Homo sapiens: one gene and its partners. The protein of the gene in region 3 purifies or fractionates together with the protein of the main gene of each other region. This does not show direct contact. Each region holds a gene or a part of one and is shown on either strand. Other genes may lie near its edges.

Region 1 (4,973 bases), on a different chromosome or scaffold from region 3:
TATATAATCTAGATGCAAATCTTTTGGGGATAGAGAGTTTTATTTCTTCATTTCCAATTTGTAGGCCTTTTATTTATTTTTATTGCCTAATTGCAGTGGCTACAACTTCCAGTACTATGTTGAATAAGAGAGATGAGAGTGGACATCCTTGCATTGTTTCCAATCATAGGGCAAAAGCGTTCAGTCTTTCACCATGAAGTATAATGTTGGCTGTAGGTTACTTGTAGGTGTTTTTATCAAGTTGAGGCAATTCTCCTCTGTAGGGGGTTAAATTGTGTCCCTCAAAAAGATAAGTTCAATTTCTAACCTCCAGTATATGTGAATGTGACCTTATTTAGAAATAGGGTTTTTGCAGATGTAATTAAGGATCCTGAGATGAGATAATCACTGATTTAGAGCAGACCCTAAATTCAATGACTGTTGTCCTTATAAGAAAACGGAGAGGGAGGCTTAACACAGAGACTCACAAAGGGAAAGGCTCTGTGAAGACAGAAGCAGAGACTGGAATGATGCATCTATAAGCCAAAGAATACCGAGAATTGCCAGCAGCCATCTAAGAGAGACTTATGGCACAGATTCTCCTTCAGAGACCTCAGAAGAAACCAACAGTTTGATTTAAAACATTTGGCCTCCAGAACTGTGAGAGAATTAATTTCTCTTGCTTTAAGCCACCCCATTTGTGGCAATTTGTTACAGCTGCTCTGGGAAACAAATACACCCTCTATTCCTAACTTGCTGAGTTTTAATGATGAATGGGTATTGGATTTTGTCAAATGCTTTATCTGCATCAGTTGATATGATCATATTTTTTTTTCTTTAGCCTGTTGATATGGTGGATTACACTGAATGCTTTTTGAATGTTGAACCAGCCTTACAAACCTGAAATAAATCCCATTTGGTCATGGTGTATAATTCTTTTCATACATTGTTGGATTCAATTTGCTAGTGTTTTGCTAAGGATTTTTGTGTCAAAGTTCATGAGAGAGATATTGGCCTGTAGTTTTCTATTTTTGTACTGTTTTTGTCTGGTTTTGGTATCAGGATAATACTGGCCTCATAAAATGAGTTGGAAGTGTTTCCTCCTGTTCTATTTTTTGGAAGAGAATGTGTAAAACTGATCTTAATAATTCTTTAAATGTTTGCTAGAATTATTTGCTGAAGCTATCTAGGCCTGGAGATTTATTTTGTAGGAGCTTTTAAAATTATGAATTCAATTTCTTTAATGGTTATAGAGCTATTCAGATTATCCATTTCATATTGGGTGAGTTCTAGTAGTTTGCTGCTTTGGATAAATTGGCCAATTTTTTTCTAAGTTGTCAAATATATGAATGTATAATTGTTCATAATATTCTCTCATTATATTTTTAATGACTGCAGGATCTATAGTGATATTCCATATTTCATTTCTGATATTAGTGATTTGGGTCTTAACTCTTTTTATTAGTCTTGCTAGAAGTTTGTCAGTTTTACTGATTTTTTTTTCAGAAAAGCAAATTTTTGTGTTATTAATTTTTCCCTATAGTTTTTCTATTTCAAATTCATTGATTTCAGCTCTTTATTATTCCCTTCCTTCTGCTTGCTTTGGGTTTATTTTGGTCTTCTTTTCTAGATCCTTGATGTAGAAATTTAGGTTATTGACTTAAGACCTTCCTTTATTTCCAATGTAAACATTTAGTGTTAGAAATTTCTCTCTCAGAATTGCTTTATCTACATGGTACATATTTCAATATGTTGTGTTTTCATTTGCATTCAGTTCTACGCATTTTTAAAAAAATTCCTTTTGAGATTTCCTCTTTGATCCACGGATTATTTAGAACAGTGTTGTTTAATTTCCACGTGTTTAGATACTTTTCTGCTACAGATTTCTAGTTTCATTGCATTGTAGTCAGAGAATATACTCTGTATGATTTCAATTATTTTAAATTTGTTTAGGTTTGTTTTACGGCCAAGCACATTATCTATCTTGGTGAATGTTCTGTAGGTGCCAAAAAAAAGTGTGTTCTGCTGTTGTTGGGTGGAGTTTTCTATACAAAGAGATATAATTTAAAACCACTATGGAAAAACCAATATAAAATCGTAAAAATATTCAACTGGATCCTGTTAATTGACTGTCTTTTTCAGATCTTCCCTATATTTACTGATGTTCTGTCTAGTAGATTTATCAATTTCTGAGAGGGGGTATTGAATTTCCCAACTATAATTGTGGATTTGTCTCTTTCTTCTTTTAGCTTGATCAGTTTTTGTTCATGAATTTTGAGACATAGTTGTTTGGTGTGTACCCATTAAGGATCATTGTATCCTCCTGCTGGATTGATCCATTTATCATTAGGTAATGTCTCTGTTTATCTCTTTTAACTTTCTTTGCTCTGAAGACTATTTTATCAGATATTAATGAAGCTTCTCCAGATTTTTGAAAAATTAATACTTATGTGGTACATCTTTTTCTATATTTTTACTTGCAATCTTCCTATGTCATCAAATTTAATGTGAGTTTCTTGTGAATAGCATATAGAGTAGTTCCCCCTTATTCCAGGGAGATATATTCCAAGACCCCCAGTGGATGCCTGAAACCATGGATAGTACTGAACTCTATGTATACTATATATATTTTTCCCCCATACACACAAACCTATGATAAAGTTTAATTTATAAATTAGGCACAGTAAGAGATTAACAATGATAACTACTAATAAATAGAACAATTATACCAATGTACTGGAGTAAAAATTATGTGATTGTGTTCACACACTCACACTCTTTCTCACAAAATATCTTATTATACTGTACTATGGGTAACTGAAACCTCAGAAAGTAAAACCACAGATAAAAGGGGACTACTGTAGTGGTATTCGCATTCAATATAATTATTTAATGTAATTATTGATATATTATTCTTGTTTGCTATTTTATTATTTGTTTTTTGTTTGTTCCCTTTAGTTCTTATTCTTCTGTTTCCCTTTTCTTGCTTTTCTGATAGTTACTTGAGCATTTTTTATGATTCCATCTTGACTTATTCATAGTGTTTTAAAATATATATCTTTGTAGAGTTTTCCCAGTGGTTTCTCTGGGTATTCAACATTCATGTGTGAGTCATAACAGTCTACTCATATCAATATTTTACCACTTTGATTGAAGTGTATAAACCTCACTTCCATTTAGTTTCCTTTACCTTCCCCACTTTTAAATATCATTGTCTAGAGTATAAAATGGTGTTATAATTTTGCTTCAATTATCAAATATGATTTATAGAACTCATGAGTTAAAAGATAGTCTACTTTATGTACTTACATTTCTGCTCTTTCTGTTGTCCTTTCATCCTTCCTGATTGCTCTTTATCATTTATTCTCTGTTTGAAGAAATCCCTTTAGCTATTTTTTAACAGTATGTCTGCTAGCAACAAATCTTTTTGTTTTCCTTCAACTGAGAATTTAATTATTTCCCCTTAATTCCTGAAGGATAGTTTCACCAGATATGGATTCTATTTTCTGTCATCTCTGCTCTTCTATTGAGTCCATCAGCCAGTTTTTCATTTTTGTTATTTTATTTTACAGTTCTATAATTTATATTTGTTTTTTGGGGGGAGGGGACAAACAAGCCAGTTTTATTCAAAAAATAATTCCAAGGGGGAAAAAAGAAAACTGAGAAAGAGCCTATAGATTGTAAGGGTCTTTAGAAAAATAGTAGATAATTGCAAAGTATGTATTTTTTAAATTCTTGTTTTTAACTTAATTTTTATTTTAATTAATTAACAAATAATTATTGCATATATTTATGGGATACAATGTGATATTTTAATATATGCATACACTGTGGAATAATTACATCGAGCTAATTAACATATCCATCACCTCACGTAATTTATCCTTTTTTTTGTTTTTTGTTCTGTTTTGTTTTGTTTTCAGACAGGGTCTCACTCTGTCACCCAGGTTGGAGTGCAGTAGTGTGATCTCGGCTCACGGCAACCTCTGCCTCCCAGGCTTAAGCAATTCTCCCATCTCAGCATCCCGAGTAGCTAGGACCACAGGCACATGCCACCATGCCCAGCTAATTTTGTGTGTGTGTGTGTGTGTGTATTTTTGGTAGAAATAGGGTTTCACCACGTGGCCCAGGCTCTTCTCGAAATCCTGAGCTCAAGTGATCCACCTTCCTTGGCCTCCCAAAGTGGCGGGATTACAGGCATGAGCCACCACATCTGGCCTACCTATCTTTTGTTTCGTTTTGTTTTTTTCATAGCAGGAACATTTAAAATCTATTATTTTTTTGAATACTTTTTTGGGGAACAGGTGATGTTTGGTTACGTGGATAAGTTCATTAGTGGTGATTTCTGAGATTTTGGTGCCCCCATTACCCGAACAGTGTACACTGTACCCAATGTGTAGACTAAAATCTTATGCTTTTAGCAGTTTTGAAATGCACATACATTATTATCAACTATGGTGAGCATGCTGCAAAATAGGTCTTAAAAACTTATTCCTCTTGTCTAACTGGAACTTTGTACCCTTTGGTCAACTTCTCCCCATTTCCCACTCCCTCCAAGCCACAGTCCCTGGTAACCATTCTACTCTAATTCTGAGTTCAACTCTTTTAGATCTCACATATAAGTGAGATTATGTGGTGTTTGTCTTTCTGTGTCTGGCTTGCTTCACTTAGCATAATGTCCCCCAGGTTCATTCATGCTGTAGCAAATGACAGAATTTCCTTCTTTCTTATATTTTTATAACTTCTTTTTCTTTTCTGCAAGTTTCCTTTTTTTTCTTTATTTGTTTTAAGATAATGTTAATTGATTGTTGAGGCATTTTTATGATGGCTACTTTGAAATCCTTGTCAGATAATTCCAACATCGAACTCATCTTAATGTTGGCAGTAGTTGCCTTTTCTCAGTCAAGTTGTGATTTACTTGATTCTTGGTATGACAGATGATTTTTGATTGAACATTTTGTCTACTATGTTAGGAAACTCATATTTACATTTTT
Region 2 (4,973 bases), on a different chromosome or scaffold from region 3:
AAAAAAAAAAAAAAAAAAAATTACAATGCATGTAATTTTGTTGGGTTTTCTCCCCCAAAATATTTGTCACGAAAGTATTACATAAAGTTGATATTAATACTTTTTAGCAGAAAATAGTCCATAGGATATAATTTGAAACTCGATTTTTCTGGTTTATGATAAATGTTAAAGTCTTTGTGCATATATTGATTTTACTTTCAAACTGATTTCCTTAAGATAACTCACCAGGCGTGTGATTGCTGAGTTAAATTTTAACTTTAATATATATGGTCACTTTACTCTTCAAAAGAACATTATCAATTTCAATCACTAGCAATATATCAAAATATCTGTTTCCACATTGTTTTTTTTTCAAATAATTCTTAAATAAATGCCTAATTGTACATAGATGTTTTTATTTACATTTAATAATTATTAATTATACTGAATGAGTTCTCATGTTTATTATTTATATTTCTAATTCTACGAAGGAAAAGTTTGTAACTGGACAAGCAAATAATAAACATGAGAACTTATTCAGTATAATTTGTAAATATTTATGTTCGTATTTAATACGTGCCTTTGTTGTTTGTTTTTGTTTTTTTGAGACGTATTTTCGCTTTTGTCCCCCGGGCTGGAATGCAGTGGCATGATCTCGACTCACTGGAACCTCTGTCTCCCAGGTTCAAGTGATTCTCCTGCCTCAGCCTCCCGAGTAGCTGGGATTACAGGTGTCCGCCACCACACCCAGTTAATTTTTGTATTTTTAGTAGAGACGGGGTTTCGCCATGTTGGCCAAGCTGGTCTTGAACTCCTGACCTCAGGTGATCCACCCGCCTCGATCTTCCAAAGTGCTAGGATTACAGGCGTGAGCCACCGTGCCCGGCCAATATGTACCTTTTTTGTAGACTAAGCTCCAGGATAGCAGAAACACATTTATTTTGTTTACCACTGTAACACTACCATCTAGCACAGAAATACTCAAAGTTTTTGTTGAATGAATCATTCATGTCTTTTTTCCTACCTAACTACCAGGGTCTTGACAGTGTTCTTAAAATTAGTCTAAGTTCCTTACATACACACATCTAGTAAGAACTATTTTTGCATTTTTCTCTCTGCATTTTAATTTTATTACCCTGAAAATTTACATTCTTTATATGATACAGATCTGAACTTTTCCTTTAAAATCAGAAAAGGTTTAATTTTAATCGTGAAAATATTATCATCATTGGGTAACAGCTGACACTCTATTCTGTTTACTACTAGCTATTTAATGATTTGACTTCTATATGTCATTCTTCAGTATTCCTAAAATTCAGTTTTTATGTATGGTATTATATAATAGCGTTTAATTAAGTTTTTTCACCTGGATACACATGACACATACAAGCAACATAACCTCACTGGCTCTGAAATTCCTGGAAAAATCTCCTCTAGTTCATTAGAAGAATAAATCATTCACAAACATCAATACTTTACTTTTATTTATTTATTATAATTATATTTTTGAGACGGAGTTTTGCTCTTGTTGCCCAGGCTGGAGTGCAATGGTGCGATCTCAGCTCACTGCAACCTCTGCCTCCCGGGTTCAAGAGATTTTCCTGCCTCAGCCTCCTAAGTAGCTGGGATTACAGGCATGCACCACCACGCCCGGCTAATTTTGTATTTTTAGTAGAGATGGGGTTTCTCCATGTTGGTCAGGCTGGTCTCAAACTCCTGACCTCAGGTGATCCACCCACCTCGGCCTCCCAAAGTGCTGGGATTACAGATGTGAGTCGCCGTGCCTAGCCAACGCTTTATTATTAATAAGCTATTAATAATACCTTGTGATCATAATACCCAAAACTAGGGTTCCAATCCTGTTGACAGTTACTGGTGATATATGTGGATCATTTCTAAGCTAACGTTGCGGCATAATGCCTTCTTTAATTGTTCAAGACAGGGTCTTGCTCTGTCACCAAGGCTGGAGTGCAGGGGCATGAACACGGCTCACTGCAGCCTTTAATTCCCAGGCTCATGCAATCCTCCAGCTTCAGCCTCCTGAGTAGCTGGAACTATAGGTGCATGCCACTACGCCCAGCTAATTTTTGATACTGCTCTCTAATTATTTAAAAATACGTAATAATAATAGTAATAAAAGTAGTTAACATTTTTTGATGCTTACCATGTGTCAGGTACTATGTTAATATGTATTTTATATACATTACCTTACTTTAATCATCAAAGTAACTTTGAGGTAAACGTGCATATTATCGTCACTTTACAGATAAGGAAAATGGCATTAGAGAATTTCAGTTACTGCCCAGGCATGGTAGCTCATGCCTGTAATCCCAGCACTTTCGGAGGCCAAAGCAGGCAGATCACTTAAGGTCAGGAGTTCGAGAACAGCCTGGCCAAAATGGTGAAACCCTGTCTCTACTAAAATACAAAAATTAGCCAGGTATGGTGGTGCCTGCCTGTAATCCCAGCTACTTGGGAGGATGAGGCAGGATAATTGGTTGAACCTGGGAGGCAGAAGTTGCAGTGTGCCAAGACTGTGCAACTGCACTCCAGCCTGGACAATGGAGTGAAACTCTGTCTCAATCAATCAATCAATCAATCAATCAATAAACAGAATTTCCGTTAGGCTGCTTGCCATTGTGCTAACATCACAGAGTGTACTTATACAAACCTAGATGGTATGGCCTACTACACCCCTTGGCTATATGGTACAACCTATTGCTTTTGGGCTACAAACCTGTATCACATGTTACTATAATGAATATCGTAGGCCACTATTGCAATGGTAAGAATTTGTGTATTTAAACACAAATACAGAAAAGGCACAGTAAAAATACAGTATAAAAGATAAAAAATGGTACATCTGTATAGGGCACTTACCATGAATGGAGCTTGCAAGACTGGAAGTTGCTCTGGGTGAGTCAGCGAGTGAGTGGTAAGTGAATGTGAAGGCCTAGCACATTATTGTACACTACTGTAGACTTACACTGTACACTTAGGCTACACTAAATTTATTTAAAATTTTTTTCTTTAATAATAAATTAGCTTACTGTAACTTTTTAACTGTTTTACTTTTTTTAGCTTTTTGACTCTGTTGTCATAACAGCTTAAAACACAAACATATACAGCTGTACAAAAATATTTTCATTATATCCTTATTTTATAAGCTTTTTTCTATTTTTAATTTTTTTTTTCTTTTTAAATTTGTTTGTTAAAAACTAAGACAAACACCCACATTAGCCTAAGCCTACACAGGGTCAGGATCATCAATAACACTTTCTTTCACCTCCACATCTTGTCCCACTGGAAGGTCTTCAGGGGCAGTAACACGCATGGAGCCGTCATCTCCTTTGATAACAATGCCTCCTTCTGGAAACCTCCTGAAGGACCTGTCTGAAGCTGTTTTACAGTTAACTGTTTTCTTAGTAAGTAGAAGGAGCACTCTAAAATAATGATTAAAAGTATAGTACAGTAAATATGAGGCAACAGAGATTTTTCAGCTCCATTATAATTTTTTTTGTTTTGTTCTTGGTTATTCTTTTATCTTTTTAGTTTTTCTTTTTTCTTTTTTACTTATTAAAATTTATTTTTTCTAACTTTTGTTATTATTGCACTACCAGCTTTGATCCATTATAATCGTACAGGACCATCGTACACGCAGTCCACTGTTGACTAAAATGTTATGTGGCACGTGACTGTACATACCAGGCCAGACTCAAGGCCTCTGCTCTTAATCACTTTGCTGGACTGCTTCAATTTCCACTGTGCTATTCTGCTTGGTTTTCCCACCTTATATTTTATGAGTTCTACCAATAAAACTTCTTGTAGTTTGATACGTTTGAAGTTCTGGGTTACCTTCTCCATGGTTGTCCAGGCCTGACGTAATGGAGTTGTGAAACAGTTGGGGAGTGGCCCACCTTCCCTGCAGATATTGGATTCAATTTCTAATCGTACAACATCATCAAATCCAAGAGGATGTGTGGCTTGGAGGGAGAAGTACCTATGGTAAAAAGATATCCGAAGTAAAATCAAATTCCATAGCAAGTATAAGCAACTTTCAGCACCTCCTCCAGAGAATCTTATACAAGGCTACTTGATTGAGCCTGCAGGCCTAGAACTATAGAGCTATGTGATGACAGTGCTGATGTAACCTTTCTTTGTTCCCACTTCCCCAGAGATAGTTGGGTCAACTTGCTACCTTTCTATCTGCCTGCCAACCATCCTTAGTTCTTGACGGTGAACTCTACTGTTGTTTAAAAGCTGTAAGGATCAGACTACAACTGAGGCAAAGAAACTAACAATCACATATTTATGGGTACCTATTCTCTGTTGAGGACTTGATAGATAGAAAGGAATTTATAGGAAAGGAAGACATGGTCATTTTCCCTAAAAAGCGAGCTGAGAACTTGTATGCACAGAATAAAATAAGAACACATCATCATAACTACAAGGCATCAGGAGTAAACATGTACAAATTCAAAACAAAACAGCACTGAGGGGTGAGCTAGATGCATATGACCTATTTGGATAGAACAGGACTTACTGATGACTCGGTGTGGAAAGGGAGTAACCAATATTGATAACACAAAGATTTCTACCTTGATGGGGTATAATGCAGGTAATGTTTTGGTAAGCTGATTATGAAATGAATACCAAAAAAAGCATTAAATGCGAGAAAAAAAAAAAGGCTCTCTTCCAAGCACTCTAATGGTTTCTATGTCCTGACAGAAATACAAAGGTTGATAATGCATGATTATGATGATGCATATATATGATACAAAAACAAGCAGGCTGGGCACAGTGGCTCACGCCTATAATCCCAGCACTTTGGGAGGCAGTGGTGGGTGGATCACTTGAGGTCAGGAGTTCAAGACCGGCCTGGCCAACATGGTGAAACCCTGTCTCTACTAAAAATACAAAAATTAGCTGGGCGTGGTGGCCCCCACCTGTAATCCCAGCTACTCAGGAGGCTGAGGCAGGAGAACCGCTTGAAC
Region 3 (4,973 bases):
GTGAGCCTGTAGTATCAGATACTCGAGAGGCTGAGGTGGGAGCTCAGGAGGTCGAGGCTACAGTGAGTTGTGATTGCACTGCCACACTCCGGCCTGGGCAACAGAGAAAGACCCTGTCTCAACATAAATAAATAAATATAAAGTAGATTAAGTTAATCATGGTACCCTAGAGTTAGGAATGAGAATCCAAAGGGTTGAAAATGAGAGAAGAACATAGCCTACCAACGAAGGAAGCAAAAGGGAATGGATGGTAGCAAAGGAATTAACAAATGTCCACTCAAAACTATGTATAGATTTACACACACAAAAAAAGTTATTTAAAAGGTTACTTTTTTTTCACAAAAGTTGCTGTTCTGCTTGGTTTTGTTTTTGAGATAAGGCATCACTCTATCAACAGTAGTGTAAGGACATCCTTTGAAAGGAAAAAACAAACTATGGACCTACCCAGTACAGTGACGCCTTCATAACTCACTGCAGCATTGAATTCCTGGGCTCAACCAATCCTCCTGCCTCAGTCTCCCAAATGGCCGGGACTATAGGCACACACCACCACGTCCAGCTAATTTTTTAGTAGAGATGGGGGTCTTGCTATGTTGCCCAGGCTAGTCTCGAATTCCTATCTCAGTGATCCTCCAGTCTTCGCCTCCCAAAGTCCCAGGATTATATGCATAAGCTTCCACACCTAACCCCTGCTCTGTTTTTAAATAACAAATGTTTTTCACGACTTCTATGAGAATAAAACCTGGATATTAAGGCAAATTTACCAAAGGTCCAAATTATTTTTCCACAGGACACAGCATGAAACAAGAGCTAAAGAAGAAATGTGAGGCTGGGCATGGTGGCTCATGCCTGTAATCCCACTACTTTGGGAGGCTGAGGTGGGTGGATAATTTGAAGTCAGGCATTCAAGACTAGCCTGGCCAACATAGTGAAACCCCGTCTCTACTAAAAATACAAAAAATTAGCCGGTCAGTAGTGGTGTGCACCTGTAATACCAGCTACTCAGGAGGCTGAGGCAAGAGAATCGCTTGAGCCTGGGAGGCATAGGTTGCAGTAAGCCTAGATCATGCCACTGCACTCCAGCCTGGGCAATGGAGCGAGACTCTGCCTCAAAAAAAAAAAAAAAGTGAAATTCAAGTTAATGGCAACTTAGATAAAATAATATACTAATGAGACACAAGAGAGGTATGGAGCTGCCTGAAGACTTGTGATTTCAGATGTCAGGTAAAATCAAAAGACCCGAAGTCAAGTGTACACTGGGAGTACTTGATACATCTAGAACACCCTTTAGGTGACAAAATGCTCACAAAACAAATACTACATTGAAATCAATAAGATTTTCTTCTGTAACATTCAATTATTCTACAACCCTAAAACCTTCTAAAAATATATACCTATATGACATTCTATTCTAGAACCTCTGGCTTCTAGAAAACAAAATTTCCTTAACAAATCAAAGACTGGAATGCAGATTACATGTATATAACTAAAAATATATACATGGTATTCCCACATAGGTGGTATGCTTTTTCCTTCCTTTTCTTTTCTTTTTGAGACGGAGTTTAGCTCTCGTTGCCCAGGCTGGAGTGCAATGGCGAGATCTCGGCTCACTGCAACCTCCACCTCCCGGGTTCAAGTGATTCTCCTGCCTCAGCCTCCCGAGTAGCTGGGATTACAGGCGTCCGCCACCATGCCCAGGTAATTTTTTGTATTTTTAGTAGAGATGGGGTTTCACCACATTGGCCAGGCTGGTCGTGAACTCCTGACCTCAGGTTATCAGCCCGCCTCAGCCTCCCAAAGTGCTGGGATTACAGGCATGAGCCACTGTGCCCGGCTGAAGACTAAATTTTTAAGAAAAGGAGGATGGGTGTGGTGGCTCACGCTTGTAATCCCAGCACTTTGGGAGGCTGAGGCGGGCAGATCATGAGGTCAGGAGTTCATGACCAGCCTGGCCAACATGGTGAAACTAAAATACAAAATTACTAAAAATACTAAATTACTAAATGCTAAATTCACTATAGTGCAAAGCATTTGTATACCTAGGAGGTGCTAATTAGATACTTGTTGAAGATTAATTTTTTTTTTTAAAGATAGAGTTTCACTCTTTCACCCAGGCTAAATTACTAGATTACTGAAAATATTCTACCAAAAATACAAAAATTAGCTGGGCATGATAGCGGGCGCCTGTAATCCCAGCCACTTTGGAGGCTGAGGCATGAGAATCACTTGAACCTGGGAGGTGGGGGTTGCAGTGAGCCAAGATTACACCACTACACTCCAGCCTGGGCAAGAGTGAGAGACTCCATCTCCAAAAATAACAACAACAACAAAAAAACAAAGAAGCCATAACATGAAAGACAGAAGCAGTAGGACATATTTGGAGACTAGCAGGTAACCTAGTTGGGGTGAAGCATAAAGGCATATGAAGAAGATTTGAGGGTGATAAAGCTAAAAAGGAAGGTTAGGAAAATCAAGAGAATATTAAATGCTATGTTAGAGTCCTATAAGTAGAGTAGACATTGTGGGCTTCTGCATGGGTGACATACAGAATGATTTGAAGTCATGTATGCTATTAATGTATGTCAAAGGCCAGGCATAATGTTACTAATAGAATCTGGAACTAGCATAATAGCTGAGAAAACAGAAAAAAGGAGAAGTATGCTAAAAATTACAGAGCTGGAAGGAACAGGTGACAGTGAATAAAGAGAGATGAGGGAGAGAAGATAGCCAAATATGACTAAAGTAGGCAACAGTGCTAGATACCATTAACAAAACAACTGAAATAGGGGGAAAATGACGTTTTGAGGAAAAGACCAGTTCAATTACAAGAAGTTCTATCTGGCTGGCCGCGATGGCTCACACCTGTAATCCTAGCACTTTGAGAGGCCGAGGCGGGCAGATAACCTGAGGTCGGGAGTTTGAGACCAGCCTGACCAACACAGAGAAACCCCGTCTCTACTAAATATACAAAATTAGCCAGACATGGTGATGGGCATCTGTAATCCCAGCTACTCAGGAAGCTGAGGCAAGAGAATCACTCGAACCCGGGAGGCAGAAGTTGCGGTGAGCCGAGATTGCACCACTGCACTCCAGCCTGGATAACATGAGTGAAACTCGTCTCAAAAGAAAAGAAAAGAAAAAGAAGAGGCCAGGCGCAGTGGCTCACACCTGTAACCCCAACACTTTGGGAGGCCGAGGCGGGCGGATCACCTGAGGTCAGGAGTTCGAGACCAGCCTGGCCAACATGGTGAAACCCATCTCTACTGAAAATACAAAAATTAGCTGGGCGTGGTGGCAGGCGCCTGTAATCCCAGCTACTCAGGAGGCTGAGGCAGGAGAATCGCTTGAACCTGGGAGGCGGAGGTTGCAGTGAGCTGAGATCGCACCATTGCACTTAAGCCTGGGGGACAAGAGCGAGACTTTGTCTCAGAAAAAAAAAAAAAAGAAAAGAAAAGAAAAAGAAGAAGTTCTACTGACGCATGTGAAAAAACGTCCTAGATGTGTTTGATGTGCAGCTGGAAATGCAGATCTACACTCAGTAAAGAGAGCAAATGACTGAAGTAGATTTAAGAGTCATCAGCATCGCAGCAAGTCCAGAGGCAATAGGAGTGGATGATGCCAAGCAGGTGAGCATGGAGAAAGGAAGGATCTGAAGAGAGAACCTGGGAGACACTTGTATGTAAAGAAAAGGATGGCCGGGCACAGTGGCTCGGGTCTGTAATCCCAGCACTTTGGGAGGCTGAGGCAGGTGGATTGCTTGAGCTCAGGGGTTTGCGACCAGCCCAGGCAACATGGCAAAACCCTGTCACTATGAAAAAATACAAAAATTTGCCAGCCGTGGTGGCATCTGCCTACAGTCCCAGCTACTCAGGAGGCTGAGGTGGGAGGATCATTTGAGCCTGGGAGACAGAGGCTGCAGTGAGCCAAGATAGCCCACTGCACTCCAACCAGGGTGACAGAGTAAGACCCTGTCTCAAAAAATAGAAACAAAAAGAAAAAGAAAAGGATGTGGAATACTGAGAGGGGAAACAGGGAAGTACAGTCTTACAAAACTCAAAACTAGAGGGTTCCAAGATGGAAAGAATAACCAATAGTAACAAATAATGAAGCAAGGTAAACAAATGGGAACAATAACAAAAACAAGAAAGTTGTAAAGGCATGTGCAGCATGATATAATGGAAAATGGGAGAGGAGTTAGAGATGGACTCACATGGACTCACATACCATTTCCACCATTTCCACCATTTTCCAGCTTTACTACCTTATGCAAATTACTAAACCTGTCTATACCAGTTTCCTCATCTGTAAAATGAAATATTTAATATGGCATGTTGCATTAGAGTCTAAGGATGCAAAGTTCCAAGCCTAGTGGGAAGGCAACATTTTATTCAACCTTGAGTTAACTTCATGAGACTAAAGGCAATTTCTCAATTATTTCTGTGTTCCTGCTGTGCTTTTTTAGGAGACTCATAAATTTCTGTTAAATTATAACAGTAACAGCAAAACCTTCTACTTCATACATGGTTGAAAATGTTCAGCTATGCTTACATAAAGGAAAAAAGAAAAATAAATCAAATTTTGAAATATGTCTTCCTTTTTGGCTTATAAGTTAGAGAATATGTCTTTTATTTTTTCTGTCACCAAAGCACAGGTAATCATTTATTTCAGTTTATAGCTTTCAATATATAAAGCATGAATATATTATATTACGCTTATGGGAGAAAGAACACAATGTCAAGAGGAAGAAACCACATTATAAAATACTAAACCAAAACAGATCCCAAGTAAGCTCGTAAAGATTATCCAGCCCTCATCTTCAATGTCATAAGGTCGTGCAAATGAGGTGTTAACCCAACCAGGAGAGCCAATGACATTAGTCACAGTCCCTAAATATCTGATTAAATGGCAAATCCTGTCACAGTAAGTAGAAGGCATCTCTTTCACTAGGGGTCTCCCTAAGCCAGTTAACAAAG
Region 4 (4,973 bases), on a different chromosome or scaffold from region 3:
TCCTTGTTAGACAAGGTAAGTTCAACTTATTTATTAGACATCGAAATAGAGTCTGAAACTCAGGTGAAAGGTCTATGCTTTACATGAACTTTGGAATGATAGCTATAGAACAGATGAGGTCACAAAGGAAGAAACTGTAGTTATAGCTGAGGGCCCAGAACTTAATAGTGGGGCCCTCTAGTATTTAAAGGTAGAAGAGAGGAGTTTCATAAAAGGAGACCTTTAAGAAGTAGCAGTCAATGAAATAGGAAGAAAACCAGTGTTATGTGGTATCACAGAAGCCATGAAAAAAAAAAGTTTTTTGAGGAGAGGGTTTACTATGTGAAATACCACTGAATTCAGAAAGACAAGCACAGAGAAACAAGGTGGATTAGGCAAGAAGAAGGTCACTGGTGGCTGGGGCCCATAGCTCACACCTGTAAGCCCAGCACTTTGGGAGGCTTAGGAGGGTGGATCACTTGAGGCCAGAAGTTCATGACCAGCCTGGCCAACATGGTGAAACCTCATCTGTACTACAAATACAAAAATTAGCCAGGCATGGTGGTGGGCACCCGTAATCCCAGCTACTCGGGAGGCTGAGGCACAAGAATCACTCGAACACTTGAACCTGGGAGGTGGAGGCTGCAGTGAGCCAAGAGATCGCACCACTGCACTCCAGCCTGGGCAACAGAGTGAGACTCCATCTCAAAAAAAAAAAAAAAAAAAGGAAGGTCACTGGTGACTTTAACAACAGCCATTTCAGTCAAGTACTTGGGCACAAACCATCCTAGAATGGGTTGAAGAGTAAATGGGAAATGAAAAATTACAGAAAACAAGAAAAAATATTCTCATTTAAATTACTTTAGGGCCAGGAGCTGTGGCTCATGCTTGTAATCCTAGCACTTTGGGAGGCTAAGATGGGAGAATCACTTGAGGCCATGAGTTCAACACCAGCCTGGGCAACATAGTGAGACCCTGTCTCTACAAAAATAAAAAAAAGTAGCTAGGTGTAGTGGTGCATGCCTAGAGTCCTAGCTACTCGAGAGGGTGAGAGGCAGGAGAACTGCTTGAACAGAGTACAGAGGATTATTAGGGCTAAGAAACTACTATGTATGATACTGCAATGGTAAATACATGTCACTGTACACTTGTCAGACCCTATAGGATATATAACACCAAGAGTAAGCCCTAATGTAAACTCTGAACTTTGGGTGACAATAATGTGTCACGTAGGTTCATCAGCTGTAATAAATGTACCACTCTGGTGGGGGATATTGATAGTGAGGAGGGCTATGTGTGAGTGGGTAAGGCAAAAGGTATATAAGAACTCCCTGTACTTTTTTTTTTTTTTTTTTTTTTGAGACAGAGTCTCACACTGTCGCCTGGGCTGGAGTGCAATGGAGCGATCTCAGCTCACTGCAACTTCCTCCTCCCAGGTTCACACGATTCTCCTGCCTTAGCCTCCCGAGTAGCTGGGATTACATGCACACACTACCACACCCAACTAATTTTTTGTATTTTTAGTAGAGATGGGGTTTCACTATGTTGGCCAGACTGGTTTCGAGCTCCTGACCTTGTGAATCGCCCGCCTCGGCCTCCCAAAGTGCTGGGATTACAGGCGTGAGCCACTGCACCTGGTCCCCTGTACTTTCTGCTAAATTTTGCTGTGAGCCTAAAATGGCCCTAAAAAATAAGGGCTATTTTTTAAAATGTGAGGGGCTAAGACAACAGTAGAAAAAACATTGTCCTATGGAACAGAGATGCAACTATTATTATGGGAAAATAAGAAGGAAAGTTGCCTTATTAGGACCTTTATTAGTCTCTCACCACAGCTATTCAACCCATTTCCTACTACTACCCCTCTTAATTCAACTTTCTAGCCCAGTCAAACATATCTTTTTATATAACACTTAGTTTCACGTCCAAGCTATAATGCAAACTGCCCCTACACCTACCCCTTGCCCTAGCTCCCATTGTCCTATCCTTACAATTACTGTCTGTTCAACTTCAACTTATCCTCTAAAGGTTCAAGCCAACTTCTTTTGTGACATCTTTCCTATCTATACTAACCGGGAACACTCCGTCCCTCTGAAAACCTATTATATTTGCATTAGGACTTGCTAATTTGCCAGGCATGGTGGTGCAGGCCTGTAGTCCCAGCTATTAGGGAGGCTGTGGTGGGAGCATCACTTGAGCCCAGGAGTTCAATGCCAGCCTGGGCAAAACAGCAGGACTCTATCGCTAAAAGAATAAAATAAATAAAAAGAATCACTAATTATTTCAGCCAAATGTTACTGTTCTCTAAATGTTTTAAAGCAAGCTTGTCCAACCTGCAGCCCAGGGTGGCTCTGAATGAGGCCCAACACAAATTCATAAACTTTCTTAAAATATTATGAGATTTATTTATTTTTAGCTCAGCTATCATCAATGTTGTGTATTTTATGTGTGGCCCAAGACAAGTCTTCCAATGTGGCCCAGGGAAGCCAAAAGATCGGACACCCCTGCTTTATAGGCATTTATCTCATCTTCTACATTAGATTGTACTTACTGAAACGCAGTGCTATGACATATACTTCCTTTGTAGATTCCAAAGTAATAGAAACATAGTAGGTACAGAGTAAATATTAATCGTATGGTGAAAACAGAAATACCAGGCACAGAGCAGAAAAGGATGAGGAAGAAAAGGAGAAACTAAGGCAATCACTGAAGGGGGCCTAAGAAAATAAAACAATGCTACATATCATTATCAACTTACTGGGCATCTGCTCAGGGGAGCCAAGGTTTATGGAGTTGTCAGCAGCACCCACCGCCACTCCATTGATAGAAGAACCACAATCTGCAAGGACTCCCAAGCAGGCTGAGCGCCCACAATCCCAAAGTCGTGCTGTCCCATCTCGAGAAGCAGACACCACATTCCTCCCCCGATCAACGATGGCTGTATCCAGGATACCTAGCAAGAGAAAAAAACTCCCTAAGATGGAGGATGGAGTAAAGGAACTACAAGGGCAGAGAAGATGGAGCTGCATAAATGACTCCATCCCTTCACAAACATGTTCTGAACAGGTACCACATGCTGGCCATGTTCAAGTGCTAGAAAAACAGAAATAGAGTCCCAGCTTCCCAATGAATCAAAGTCTAGCTGTGAAAGACAGGCATGGAAAAACAAGTACTGGATTTAATTTTTAGTGGAGTGTGCTAGAGAAATCATGTTCAAGTTTTTTATTTTGTCTTCAAAACTCTTTTTTAAAAAGAAAAATTAAGAGGTCGGGCGTGGTGGCTCACACCTGTAATCCCAGCACTTTGGGAGGCCGAGGCAGGTGGATTGCCTGAGCTCAGCAGTTCAAGACCAGCCTAGCTAACATGATGAAACCCTGTCTTTACTAAAAATACAAAATAGCCAGGCGTGGTGACACATGCCTGTAATCCCAGCTAAACAGGAGGCTGAGGCAGGAGAATCGCTCGAACCTGGGAGGCGTAGGTTGCAGTGACCCGAGATCACGCCACTGCACTCCAGCCTTCAACAGAGGAGACTCCGTCTCAAAAAATAAATAAATAAATAAAAAATAAAAATTAAGTAGACACCTTAACAAGAACTTTGGAGGAAAAAAAAGTTGACACCTAAGCTAATTCAGTTTGAAAATCACTGCCTTGGCCAGGTGCAGTGGTACACACCTGTAATTCCAGCACTTTGGGAGGCTGAGGCAGGAGAATCTCTTGAGCGCAGGAGTTTAAGACCAGCCTGGGTGACACAGCATGACTCTGTCTGTACAAAAAATTTAATTTAGGTATGGTGGCTCGTGCCTGTAATCCCAGCTACTCAGGAGGCTGAGGTGGGAGGATTGCTTGAGCCCTGGAGTTCAAGGCTACAGTAAGCCATGATTGCTCCACTGCACTCCAGCCTGGGCAGTGGAGCAAGACCCATATATATATATACACACATATATATACACATATATATATACACACATATATATACATATATATATACACACATATATACACATATATACACATATATATACATATATACACATATATATACATATATACACACATATATATACATATATACACATATATACACATATATACATATATATACACATATATATACACACATATATATATATTTATTTACATATATGCTGCTGCTGCTTTCACTGATAATTGATTAAAAGGGTTAGCCTCCCCATTTGAAAAAAGGACATGACTTCTGGTTTTGGCCAAGAAAGAGTAGTCCCATTGCTCCTAGGTCCTTCTGTTTACAACTGAAAAGTCATTGACACCACAAGCATAGTAAGACTTGGAATGATGGAAAGAAGGTGGTGGACCACTTAAGGACCTCAGGACTTAAAAAACAACACAGCAATGAGTTCCTGGATTTCCTTATTGCCTCCCACATGTCCTGGACAGGACACTGCAGAAGCCTCCAACACAAAACTGCTAACAGGAACAGAGTTAAAAAACAAAACAAAACAAAACTCCCAGTAAAGTCTGTTGCCCCTAGCCCAAAGACTGAGAAAGAAGTAGCTCACAAAATAGAAATCTTGGCAACATCCACCCTATACCAGTAGACATCAACAGAAAAACTGTTACTTCCCCTCCCCCATGGTTTCAGTGGGGCTGAACAGGAGGTGATCATCTACCCCGCTCCCATGGAAGCCGGCAGCAGCACTCCCATTCCCCTACCCAGTGGGGTTGACCAGGTTAAGTAGGGTACTGTCACAGGATCTAGCAGTGAGCTCAGTTTCCATCCCCACCTGGCAGTGACAGGCACAAAGAGGTGCCCTGAGGTGCCCACCACCCCTTCCCAGGTGTCAGTCAGCAGGGAACCAAGCTTATAACGCCACTAGAAGGCAATGAGGTGATGCAAGTCAGGTGGTGCAACTGTGTCCTACTTTCACCAAGAAGATGACACAGGACCAAGGGGGAAGCTGAACTTCCACCTCCCCTGTCTGCAGTGTGAGGCGGTATGAGTCAGTGCTCCACTTTTG
Region 5 (4,973 bases), on a different chromosome or scaffold from region 3:
ATGACGGCTACCAATCAGCCAAATAAAAGTCTATTCACTGTGAAAAGATACTAGAAAAACACAACACATATAAAATTCAACTTAGTAAGTCTGATATAGAGTCCTTTAAAAAAAGGTGAGGGATTCTATAATTATAAAACACCTTCTGTTTTATTTAAGTAAAACGAAACATAAAAAGTATAGTTTAATCCAAGCATCAAAACTTAGATCAAATGTTCTAATGGTTCCCACCCTTACCCTTTTCCCACTTCCCTATGTGTTCCCTTGGATCCCTGATCCAGGTGGTCTGGTCTAGGAGCAAAATTAGGTTATTGAAGGATATCAATTTGACAGCTTGACATGGCACAGCATTTGGAAAATATCAGAGTGCAAGGAAGAAAAAAAATTTAAAAATCAATAAGTTATCCCACCATCCTGAGATAATTACTGATAAAATGCAAACTTTCTTTATTCCTTTTTCTGCAGATAACATTTTTTACATAATTGAAAATATGGTATTTGTTCAATTATGTAACATCCCTGTTTCACTGAGCTTTTGAGCCCTTCTCCATCCAATAAGAATTCTTCAAAACCATGAATATTAGTGGCTATGTAATGAAACATTGAAAGGATAATTTAAACATTCCCTAATTAATTGTTTAGGATCTCTGTTTTTTCTGCCATTAAATAATACTATAATGAACACTTTGTATATACATCTTTGTATAATTTCAATTACCTTAGAATTCATTCCTAAAGTAGATTACTAGGTCAAAGACTATGAAACCTTTAAAGCTCTCTATACATATTGCTAAATTGTTTTCTAGGAGGGCTTTGCATATTAAAATGTCAATTTAAAATGCCCTAAAAAAAAAAGGAATAAAGTTATAACATGTATGAATGAACCTTAAAAATATGTCACGTGAAAGAAGCTAGACACAAAAGACCAAATATTGTTATCATTCCATTTATATGAACTTTTTCAGAAAAAGCAAATCAATATATGGAGAGAATAGATTCGTGGTTGATTGGGATTAGGGATGGGAACAGGGAGTGAGTGCAAATGGCCATGAGGAATCTGTGGTAAAGAACATATTCAAAAATTGGACTGGGGTGATAGTTCACAACTCTGTAAATTTACTAAAAAAATTACTGAATTGTATACTTAAAAATGGGCAAATTCTATGATACGTCAGCCATAGCCCAGGAAAACTGTTAAAAATTATTTGATAATTAGCAGAGTCCTGTAAATACTACACAAATTATTCACATATTCTGAATATAATCTTTGGGAAGGTCCTCAGACTCTTGAGCTCTACAGATTAAATATGAATTGTCTAACCTTTGTAGCTCCAAGATTAATAGTGGTAAGAGATGCGGATGCGGCAATAGTCATCTTTTCTGAAGAATCAGCTTGATGCAGTATGCTCCAAAGCAGTGTCACAGAGGACATGATCATATGAAGGATTGAGAGGATTCCACTGCGTGCTTCAAACAAGTGTTTCTGGTCTACACTGACCAAAAGCTATTAACAGTTGGGGGAAAAGAAACATATTACTTACTGAGATTTACAAATGGAAATTTATTAGACCTCACAGTCTTTCAAAAGAAGTCAAATATTTGTGCAGTCTTACTTGGTGATACTGTGTAGTTGGATCCAACAAACAGTAATGGATAATGGCTGTAATCCCTTCCAAAAGAGTAAGAATCATATCTGGTGGAATAATTGATGCCATCCACAGAGGCCTGAAGTAAAATGCATTCATTTAAACACAAGTTTTATGATAGTATAGTTCATATTTTATCACTAGTAAATACTCACAATGTGTCAGGTACACAGAAGATGTGCAATAAATACTAGATTAACAAATGGCTAAAAGAATAAATCAGGGGCTTTTATTTCCTAATCTATAAAATAAGTGAGTTGGACTAAATGTACTAGAGTTCTTTTTGGCTAAAGAATTCTATACAAAATAAACAAATGATGGCTAGTGACTCTCTAGCCACTGAGGAATGGCAGGCATATTAATATTAAACAATACAGGCAGTTTTCTTATTATTTTACATGTAGAAACTAAGGTTATTCTGAAGAAAAATGACAGTCTACTGGAACTAATTTTTCAGACTTCATTTTGAGCATAGAGACTCAGATCGAATTTTGTCACTAAACCATGAAAATCCAAAACAAGAAATAAAATTGGATGGAAAAGATTTGTAAATTTAAATTATTTTCAGTCTGAAATTGATTTGCACTTAGATAAAACAGACAAAACCTGGGAAACCCTTTTCTAAGCTTCCCATTAGTTTTGCCAGCTCAGGCAAGAAGAGAAGAGCATTGAAATTAATTTTAGATCTTGGTAGAAAATAAGCCTGTTTAAATATTCCTTCCCTTTTCCATTCTAGATTCTTTTACTGATACTCTTCCTCAAGTCAAATTTTCTTTTTTGTGGAAAGTAATACACTATTTGTAACCTACCAAAAACCATTACTTTATTTACTCAAGTTGTGACCAACTTTCCAGACATTAAGCAGTCATATATGTGAAAAATGTCAGTACCAATAAAGTTAAAAATCACCTCTTACCTACTATCAGATAATCCTGTTTCGTATTTGTACTGCTGAATTAGATTATCTAAATTTCTGCACAGTTGTAGTGTCACAGAAACAACCACTCTCTGCAGAACTTTTCCCATGTAAGGCAGAGTAGATGTGATTAAACCAATCCATTGTGGGTGCATCTTACATGCACAGTGCTGATGCAAAGCTCGTATCACTGCACAGAGGAACATGCCTTGACATGTGATTGGCTGAGCATGCAAATACTGAAGAGAAGTCATGGGTTGATGGGGACTGATGTGTTCTAAGTCAGATACAACAAAATCAAAACCTGTTTCATTCTCTTCAGGAATAGTCATTACTCTGTGTTCTAGAACAATCAGCCTCTGAAGCACCTTAAGAAGTTGTGACTGCAACGTGCTGCCATTGTCAAATTCATCCTCTGAGAAATTAATAAGGCTGTCCTCTGAGAAACCTTCTTCCACAGCAACCAGGTTCTTACCTGCCATTTTTTCACTATGCCATTTCTGAGCACTAAAGATAGATGACAGCAAACAATGAAGAATCACTTTCTGAACTTTGCACTTAGATAACATATCAGAAATAAAACTAGGGAAACCCTTCGCTGAGCTTTCTATTACTTTTGCCAGCTCAGTGAAGAGTAGTGTCAGAATTTCTATGCTCATCATTTGCATGTTTCGATTGCCTATTAAATCTTGTGCAGTAACCTTGACATGAGTTGGGTAATGGCTACGCATGTAATATAAGCAGAGAGAAATAAGAATTTCTATGTACATAGAACTCCGGAAGTTATGATTTGAGTCCACTGGAATGTGACTATAAAAATCTTTGCCCATAACAGAAATCCGGTGTCTGGCCAATAGATTCTGAAGGAGAGACAACTGAGGAGTATATGCATTATTTACACTAGTAGTTGAAATGGCATTTACAAAAGCTATAGGGTTAGTTTTCAAGATGGCTTTGATGGCAGAGAAAGCATACAAAGTCCTGGATGAATCATACAACTGGAGATACAGGAGCACATGTTGATAGAGAGGATGAATGTTGAAATTGGGAGATTTTCGAGATCCTGGAGAACCCATGTCACTCTCAATTTCAGAAATGTCTCCCTCTCCACAGCTATACCAGTTCTCTAAATCCAGACCATCACTGAAGAATACACTGGTTTGTTTGAGTTTTTCATTTGAAGATTTTTTCTTGTCATCATCCTTTTTTCTGGCAAGTTTTACTTTAGGTTTTGCTCCTGGTTGTTTACCTGACTCCTTAACTATTGTTTCCTTCTCCGAAACTTTTTCTGATAATTTTTCTTTGAAGCTGAATTGAATACTACTGTGACTCCTTTGTCTAGATTTGGTTTCTATGGAAGCAACAGAAGAGTCATGAAGAGTGTGTGTGGTTCCTGAAATACAAGGTGAGGAGCTATTCCTGGAGATTCCATTTGCCACACACTCATGGCCTCCCTCTGCAGACACAGACAGAAACTGAGAACTTTCATTACTCAGCAAAGCATTCTGACTCTGTTGAATGGAGTCATCTTCAATTTTAATCGTCTCTTCATCTGGATCTATATCACTGCACTTTGGGGGCATAGCTTCAATTTCTAATTGAGATGTAACTGATGCAGATTCCACTTCGAGGCCACTTACAACTTTACATATCAGGTCAAATACTACCTGTTGAACATCATCATCTGGGGAGCTTTCCTTGGGCATTTGAGAATCCTCTTGGGCATTCACGGTTTCAGGATCAACTTCGTAACTCAAGTTGTCCCCAGCAGAGGACTGTGAACATCCCGAGTCAGAACTCTGAAGTATTTCTATCTGTTGGTCTGGAAGATCAAAATCAGACACAACCATTGGAATTGTCTCACTGCTGGTACTTAGGAGGGAAAGTCTGTCACTTAATGGATTCACAGTGAGACTAAAGTTCTCTATTTCATCCATGGTAAGTGGCTTTTCACCATTTCCTTTTGATGTGATGAGTTGTACTTGGCTCACTGATATATGAGAAAAACAGTAAAAGAAGAAAAATACAAAATGCATTAAAATAATTGAAATGTAGAAATGTAGACTGATCAAAATTTTTAATCATTAGTGTCATCATCTACTTATATTTTCCTAAAATTACATTTTATTTTATTGCAGGTGAAAGTTTTGTTTTTTCCTCCTTAATACCTCACTTTAGTTATGCTGTTTCTAAGCTCTCTAAAGACTTTAAAATTAGCAGCAAACCACAAATACATAATTCATTTCTGTATTTTTTAGGGGGCATACAATAATGACGGTCTTCTTTTAGAAAAGGTGGAAGGCTTAGTGACATACAAAGTAGTACATACCAAATGCTAGCAAATTTAGGGAAAGAATCATGATACCATTGATGAGGTCTGGCACTGATCTCAGAGGGGAGGTGAGAATTCA

Evidence for each region.
Region 1: the proteins of MON2 (region 3) and VSIG1 purify together in Homo sapiens (co-immunoprecipitation; one large-scale study listed by IntAct). This does not show direct contact.
Region 2: the proteins of MON2 (region 3) and AKAP10 purify together in Homo sapiens (tandem affinity purification; one large-scale study listed by IntAct). This does not show direct contact.
Region 4: the proteins of MON2 (region 3) and PAAF1 fractionate together in Homo sapiens (co-fractionation; one large-scale study listed by BioGRID). This does not show direct contact.
Region 5: the proteins of MON2 (region 3) and DOP1A purify together in Homo sapiens (co-immunoprecipitation; one study listed by IntAct). This does not show direct contact.

The regions. Positions count from the first base shown.
Region 1 is NC_000023.11:108,051,542-108,056,514, reverse strand, and holds part of VSIG1 (V-set and immunoglobulin domain-containing protein 1 isoform 2 precursor), read right to left. Parts: intron 1-4,973.
Region 2 is NC_000017.11:19,932,452-19,937,424, forward strand, and holds part of AKAP10 (A-kinase anchor protein 10, mitochondrial isoform 1 precursor), read right to left. Parts: intron 3,980-4,973; coding exon 3,835-3,979; intron 1-3,834. UniProt on the Homo sapiens protein: Differentially targeted protein that binds to type I and II regulatory subunits of protein kinase A and anchors them to the mitochondria or the plasma membrane.
Region 3 is NC_000012.12:62,472,591-62,477,563, reverse strand, and holds part of MON2 (protein MON2 homolog), read right to left. Parts: intron 1-4,973. UniProt on the Homo sapiens protein: Plays a role in regulating membrane trafficking of cargo proteins. Together with ATP9A and DOP1B, regulates SNX3 retromer-mediated endosomal sorting of WLS away from lysosomal degradation.
Region 4 is NC_000011.10:73,907,355-73,912,327, reverse strand, and holds part of PAAF1 (proteasomal ATPase-associated factor 1), read right to left. Parts: intron 2,930-4,973; coding exon 2,735-2,929; intron 1-2,734. UniProt on the Homo sapiens protein: Inhibits proteasome 26S assembly and proteolytic activity by impairing the association of the 19S regulatory complex with the 20S core.
Region 5 is NC_000006.12:83,136,752-83,141,724, reverse strand, and holds part of DOP1A (protein DOP1A), read right to left. Parts: intron 4,553-4,973; coding exon 2,563-4,552; intron 1,726-2,562; coding exon 1,614-1,725; intron 1,505-1,613; coding exon 1,322-1,504; intron 1-1,321. UniProt on the Homo sapiens protein: May be involved in protein traffic between late Golgi and early endosomes.